Homo sapiens: one gene and its partner. The protein of the gene in region 2 interacts with the protein of the main gene of each other region in a pairwise test. Each region holds a gene or a part of one and is shown on either strand. Other genes may lie near its edges. The genes, in order: NEK2 and TCF25.

Region 1 (3,673 bases), on a different chromosome or scaffold from region 2:
AGATTTCTAGGGATTCCTTAATCCAGTCAAGTTGACACATAAATCAACAAGTTCACCCCTTATCAACTCGATATCCATCCACATCTCTTAAACCATACTTAATTTCCAAATGAAGACAATAACAAGGTAATAGTTCTGCCTAACATGATGCAATTATCCTGTATACAGCTGAAACGGCACTAATCCCTAACCTCAAATTCGGCTTTCAGGATTTTAACATCTGGGATTTTAATCTTTCAGGATTGTGATTTTGGAAGTTCACACATTAGGGATTCTGATCTTTTGGGATTTAAGACATTAGGGATTTTGGTCTTTCAGGATTTTCGCATTTGAGATTGTATCATTCAGGATTATGATCCAAACCCATGGACATTTTGTTGTCAGCAGCTGTCCTGTGCATTGTAAAATGTTTACAGTGTCCCTGGCCTGTACCCACTAGCAGCCAGTAGCACCCTACCCCAAATCATGACAATCAAAAATGCCCCCAGACATTGCCAAACGTCTCTTGAGGAGCAAAATCACCCTGTTAAGGACCACTGGCTTACATACATGGATTAATGAGATGGGAGGTAAAGCGCCATACAGTTTAGGACTGGAATGCCACTCCCTTGAGCATCAGATCCATGTTTCCTTCTGTACCCTACAATGAAGACCTACAAATCATAAACACAACTCCCATCAACTAAGAGACCAACAAATGCAAGACACATAACTACAGGGAAACTGAAGAATTCTTTTATTTAGTGGGAAAGAAGTAGGTAAATGACAGACAGCTCATATTCTGTTAAACAGAAAAAAAAAAAGAATACAAACATCACAGTGATGAATTTTCACAAAGCTAACAGATTTGAACTACAGAGCAATGGAATATTTATAAGCAAGATGTCATGGTATTAATGACCAAATTGCATCTAACTGGGTTTTCTAAGCTCAAAAACATTTAAAATCTCAGACTTAAAATTTAAATCTAGACATGACAATTGTAAGCATACCACTCAGTCATTTAAAACTATTCAGTGAGTGCTACTCTTCCTGCATAAATATTTTTTTCCTAACATTATTTTTTCTCCCAAGATTTAGAATGTCACATCTCATGTTCCTACTAGTAATCACACACAGGATTAAAAGCCCAACCAAGAAAGTATTCTTTTTATAATATGTTCTTAAAAGAAGAAAGAAAAATTAAATGTGAACATTTTGTACAATAGTTGCTGAAGAACAGTAAAACCAATTCCGAAATATCATGTGTACTATACAGAAAGGCATGGCTCATGGAACCAAGTATTCAACACTACAGCATTTGAATATCAGTCTTTAAAGGTTGGTAATATTACATCCTGTACACAGCTCTGTGTCTCTCTACCTGGCTAGCGCATGCCCAGGATCTGTCTGCTTTTCAGTTGGTAATTTTTCTCAATATCTGACAGGGCTTGAGCCCGCAGCTGGGCAGCGTGAAGCCTTTTCTTCAGGTCCTTGCACTTGGACTTAGATGTGAGCTGACTCTCAGAATTCTCACTCCTCATGATGTTCTCTTTACTTTCCCCACTGAAATGAACTTTCTTCTTAATTACTGAGGATGGAAGATTAAGAAGTTCTTTAGAAGGAAAAAGAAAAAGGGCTCTGAGTTACTTGAACAGAGTTCAACTCCTTCATACTTATACTTATCAAAAAGTATTTGCTCTTATGGCTCACATTTGAAATCTAGGTGCCTGTTTTATTTTCTCTGGGATAGGAGGTTAGGGGTGTAGGACTTGCAGAAATCAGCCTTTTAATCCACAGCATTGAAAAAATAATATTGGAATGTGCCAAAATTCAAGGAACATAAGTTTTATTCTCTTAACAACCAACAATCAATTTTACTCTTAAACACACTGAGTATTATGGACAACATAAAACTTTTGGAAATCAATGTTATTTATCTCTGTCCTTGAAAATAAGTGCCATTCTATGCAGAACACCTTACCTACAGAAAAGTGTAGAAGCAGAGGTTTTTTTCTGTCTTTGTTTTTTTTTTTTTTTTTAAATAGAGAACACCTACAGTTTTGGTTAAATGTTCAAGAACACTTAGTTCAAAGCATCTTAATGGACGAGAAATCTGTTTCCAAAAAATCTAAACAAATTCAGTGTGGAAAAGGTAAATCAAGTAAGAGTAGTAAAAACTGTAAACTATTCTTTACATGGAAAAAATAAATAATAATCATATTTACTTAAAGTGGCAACACTATTAACTGCTGACAGAATTACTGGGGGCTGGAGGCTTACAGATTCTAGAATCCTTTTATTTTTTGTGTTAAAGGAAATATGTTCGAATATTTACTGAGCTCATAGGATGGGCCACTGTGAACCAAACAAAGGCCCTATTCTAGTAGGAGGAGATAAACCAAACACAAACAAACAAGTACTGGTGGGGAATATTTGATGGTAATACGTGCTATTAGGAAAAATAGCTCTGGAAACAGGGACATGCTGGGTGCTGGGTGCTGGGTGTAATGATACAAAGCCTCATACAGCATTTCTGAAGTAAGAAGCCACAGGGCTGTCTGGATGAAGAGTGCTCCAGGCAGAAGAAATAGGAAAGGCTGGCACACAGATGCACTGCCTTCCAAGGGTCCTGTGACTTCCCGCTTCATACGTCGCTTCTGCTTCAAAGCAAACTGGATTGCTTTTAGACCTTATCTCCACTGTTTCAACTCTATCCACCTTCTTATTACCACAAATACCTTTACATTTGTAAGTCAACATTGTCTTACTAATGGGATAGTTTTATTTTGTTTTTGTTTTTGTCTGAGATGGGGTCTTGCCATGTTTTCCAGGCTGGAGTGCAGTGGCTAGTCACAGGTGCAGCTGTAGTGCACTACAGCCTTGGACGCCTCGGCTTAAGTGATCTTCCTGCCTGAGCCCCAGAGTAGCTGGGACTATAGGTGCGTCACCACACTTGGCTCTTAATGGGACAGTTTTATAAGAAAGAAAGTGTTTTAAAAACATTTTTAAAATTCTTCCATTAAATAGAAGAATGAATATTTCATCAAATACGAAAAGAACAGCTTTTAAAAAAGACACTGCTGCTTGCTGTGATGATTTCAATATACTTGTGATGGCTTCCTCACGTGTGGATTTTATAGCCCAAGGATGGGGAGAGAATATTTCCAACTGTCCTGAGTTCAGAATGGTACCCGCTCCCCACTGCTATGATGCTTATCTTATAGCTCTGATGTGTTCACTACTTTCAGCACTCAATACCCTAAAATGTCTGCTTGCCCCAGTGGATACTTGATTCCTATGGCTCATTTTAAATATTTGCCATGATTCACATATAAGTAGATTCCCATACTTATCTGTGTATCCTATAAAGTAAAACACATCATCCTTACTTAGCTATTTTCATCTTTTGCTCAAAGACTATCAGGGCAAATGTAAATAAACTCTTTAACCGAACAGCCATCCCCAACAGGGTCTTAAGTAATTCTCTGCAATGGGTTTGATGCATGAAATTCATCCAGGTAAAATTTTCTCCTCATTTTATCACCCTAATCATGATTTAAGTCTATTTTGTCTTTATGGATGACAGTGTGGAATCTATGAAAAGCCAGAATAAATATTTTTATAATATTGAAATGGTAGACTGCAATATTGGGAAAAAAGAAGGTATTTTAACAGAGATGAAGCCAAAGTT
Region 2 (3,823 bases):
CATTCTGTTAAATAGCTCTTAATAAACAGAAGTATGGGAGACAGTAAACAGCCAGTTACGACTAAATGGTTATGAATGTGAATGCATTGGTGAGAGACATGGTGTTTCTCTTTTTAAAAAATTTTATTTATTTAGAGACAAGATCTCTTTATGTTGCCTAGGTTGGTCTTAAACTCCTGGGCTCAAGAGATCCTTCCGCCTTGGCCTCCCAAAGTGCTGGAATTGCAGCTCCCAGTACTTTGGGAGGTGGGCAGATCACCTGAGGTCAGGAGTTCGAGAGCAGCCTGGCCAACATGGTGAAACCCCATCTCTACTAAGAATACAAAAATTGGGCCAGGCGTGGTGGCACATGCCTGTATTCCCAGCACTTTGGGAGGCCGACGTGGGCGGATCATGAGGTCAGGAGATCCAGACCATCCTGGCTAACACGGTGAAACCCCGCCTCTACTAAAGAAGTACAAAAAAATTAGCCGGGTGTGGCGGCGGGAGCCTATAGTCCCAGCTACTCAGGAGGCTGAGGCAGGAGAATGGCGTGAACCCAGGAGGCGGAGCTTGCAGTGAGCTGAGATCGTGCCACTGCACTCCAGCCTGGGCAACAGAGCGAGACTCCATCTAAAAAAAAAAAAAAAAAAAAAAAAATTGGCCAGGCATGGTGGTGGGTGCCTGTAATCCCAGCTACTTGGGAGGCTGAGGCAGGAGAATTGCTTGAACCCAGGAGGTGGAGGTTGCAATGAACTGAGATTGTGCCACCAGGCTCCAGCCCGGGCAATACAGCGAGACTCTGTCTCAAAAAAATAAATAAATAAATAAATAAATAAATCGTAATAATAATTATGGATTTGTCTATTTCTACTTTCAACCCTGTCAGTTTTTGCTGTGTGTGGGTGTGTGTGTGTTTTGGTTTTTTGGAGACAGAGTCTCGCTCTATTGCCCAGGCTGGAGTTCAATGTCACAATTATAACTCACTGTAATCTTGAACTCCTGGGCTCAAACCATCCTCCCACCTCAGCCTCCCAAGTAGGTGGAACTATAAGTGGGTGTCACCACACCTGGCTAATTTTTTCAATTTTTTTTGAAAGCCAGTGTGCTGGGATTATAGATGTGAGCTACCATGCCTGGCCTAGAATCTTTTCTGAACTGATTGGTAATGAAAATAGCAACCTATCAAAATTTGTGGGATGCAACTGAAACGATGATTAGAACTTTATCATCGTAAATTTTAAATTAGAAAAGTGTTTAAAAATCTAGAAATTTACCTGAAACTTCTACCTTAAACTAGAAAAAGAGCAAATTAAACTCAAAATGTGTCGAAGGAAGAAACTAATCAAAGAGGGGAATGCACAGAATAGAGTATGGACACGATGGAGAGAATCGGTGAGACCGAAACTTGGTTCTCTCAAAAGACGAGTTGGCAAAAACTCTAGATTGACTGATGGAGGGAAAAAGGGAAGGTCCAGGTACGTTACCATTTTCAGGGATGGGAGAGGAGTGTTCACAGGTACAGATGGTGCAGATAGTAACGGGCGATAAGGAACTTCTTGCTAATAAATTTTCCAGATTAGACAAATGGGCAAGTTCCTTTAAAGATAAAACTTATCTAAATTGACATGTGAAGAAATAAAAAAATCTGAGCCCTTTTATCTATTAAAGATACTGAATTTTTTAAAGTATAAAACATTCCAGGCTAGGGTTGGTGGCTGACACCTGTAATCCCATCACTTTGGGAGGTCAAGGCAGATCCATCACTTGAGCTCAGGTGTGTGAGACCAGCCTGGGCAATGTGGCAAAACCCCATCTCTACAAACAATACAAAAAAACTGTCCAAGTATAGTGGCACTCACCTGTGGTCACAGCTACTCGGGAGGCTGAGACGGGAGGATGGCTTGAACCCAGGAGGTCGAGGCTGCAGTGAGGTGAGATGACGCCACCGTACTCCAGCCTGGGTGACAAAGTGAGACCCTGTCTCAAAAAAAAAAAAAAGACAACCTCAGGCTGGGTGCGGTGGCTCATGCCGGTAATCCCAGCACTGTGGGAGGCCAAGGCGGGTGGACCACCTGAGGTCAGGAGTTCGAGACCAGCCTGGCCGACATGGTGAAACTCCGTCTCTATTAAAAATCACCATTTTTTTTTTTTTTTTTTTTTTTTAGGAAAAATGGACATTTTCCTCTCCCCCTAAAAAAAGATAAAACTCCTTCCTGGTTATTAACTGAAATGCTGATCGAGCTTTATCCTAAAGAAGATCAGTCGTGGACAAGAACCTTGTGAAATGTTCCCCATTTGAGACCCTAAAACTAATGAAAATCACAGCTTTTGGGTAGGTAATAAGGTGTTTTGTTTTGTTTTTTGAGACGGAGTCTTGCGCTGTCGCCCAGGCTGGAGTGCAGTGGCACCATCTCAGCTCACTGCAAGCTCTGCCTCCTGGATTCACTCCATTGTCCAGCCTCAGCCTCCTGAGTAGCTGGGACTACAGGCGCCCACCACCACGCCCGGCAAGTTTTTTTGTATTTTTAGTAGAGACGGGGTTTCACCGTGTTAGCGAGGATGGTCTTGATCTCCTGACCTCGCCATCTGCCCACCTCTGCCTCCCAAAGTGCTGGGATTACAGGCGTGAGCCACCGCGCCCAGCCAGTAATAAGGTTTGTCTGACGGTGATTGACAGCATTTTAGAGCTGATGCATGGCAGTAGAGATTGCAGCAAATCATGTGTCATCACCAAAACTTCACTGAAGAAGCAAAACTAGGCCTGTCACCCGTGCTGTCTGTGTACACAGATGGGCTTCAGAGCCTGTCACACGTGTTGTCCGTGTACACAGATGGGCTTCGGGGCCTGTCATACGTGCTGTTCGTGTACACAGACGGGCTCCTGGGCCTATCACCCGTGCTGTCCGTGTACACAGATGGGCTTCGGGGCCTGTCACACGTGTTGTCCGTGTGCACAGATGGGCTTCGGGGCCTGTCACACGTGTTGTCCGTGTACACAGACGGGCTTCAGAGCCTGTCACACGTGCTGTTCGTGTACACAGACGGGCTCCTGGGCCTGTCACACGTGCTGTCCGTGTACACAGATGGGCTTCGGAGCCTGTCACACGTGTTGTCCGTGTACACAGATGGGCTTCGGGGCCTGTCACACGTGTTGTCCGTGTACACAGATGGGCTTCGGGGCCTGTCACACGTGTTGTCCGTGTGCACAGATGGGCTTCGGGGCCTGTCACACGTGTTGTCCGTGTGCACAGATGGGCTTCGGGGCCTGTCACACGTGTTGTCCGTGTGCACAGATGGGCTTCGGGGCCTGTCACACGTGTTGTCCGTGTGCACAGATGGGCTTCGGGGCCTGTCACACGTGTTGTCCGTGTGCACAGATGGGCTTCGGGGCCTGTCACACGTGTTGTCCGTGTGCACAGATGGGCTTCGGGGCCTGTCACACGTGTTGTCCGTGTGCACAGATGGGCTTCGGGGCCTGTCACACGTGTTGTCCGTGTGCACAGATGGGCTTCGGGGCCTGTCACACGTGTTGTCCGTGTGCACAGATGGGCTTCGGGGCCTGTCACACGTGTTGTCCGTGTGCACAGATGGGCTTCGGAGCCTGTCACACGTGTTGTCCGTGTACACAGACAGGCTCCTGGGCCTATCATGTGTGCTGTCTTTGTAAACAGTCAGGATCCCAGGACTATCACGCGTGCTGTCCATGTACACAGGCAGGCTCCTGAGCCCATCACACGTGCTGTCCGTGTACACAGATGGGCTTCAGAGCCTGTCACACGTGTTGTCCATGTACACAGACAGGCTCCCGGGCCTATCATGTGTGCTGTCTGTGTACACAGGC

The links.
Region 1: the proteins of TCF25 (region 2) and NEK2 interact in a two-hybrid assay, tested with the Homo sapiens proteins (one large-scale study listed by BioGRID and IntAct).

Annotation. Positions count from the first base shown.
Region 1 is NC_000001.11:211,662,059-211,665,731, forward strand, and holds the end of NEK2 (serine/threonine-protein kinase Nek2), read right to left. Parts: intron 1,595-3,673; coding exon 1,368-1,594; 3' UTR 714-1,367; downstream 1-713. UniProt on the Homo sapiens protein: Protein kinase which is involved in the control of centrosome separation and bipolar spindle formation in mitotic cells and chromatin condensation in meiotic cells.
Region 2 is NC_000016.10:89,876,314-89,880,136, forward strand, and holds part of TCF25 (ribosome quality control complex subunit TCF25), read left to right. Parts: intron 1-3,823. UniProt on the Homo sapiens protein: Component of the ribosome quality control complex (RQC), a ribosome-associated complex that mediates ubiquitination and extraction of incompletely synthesized nascent chains for proteasomal degradation.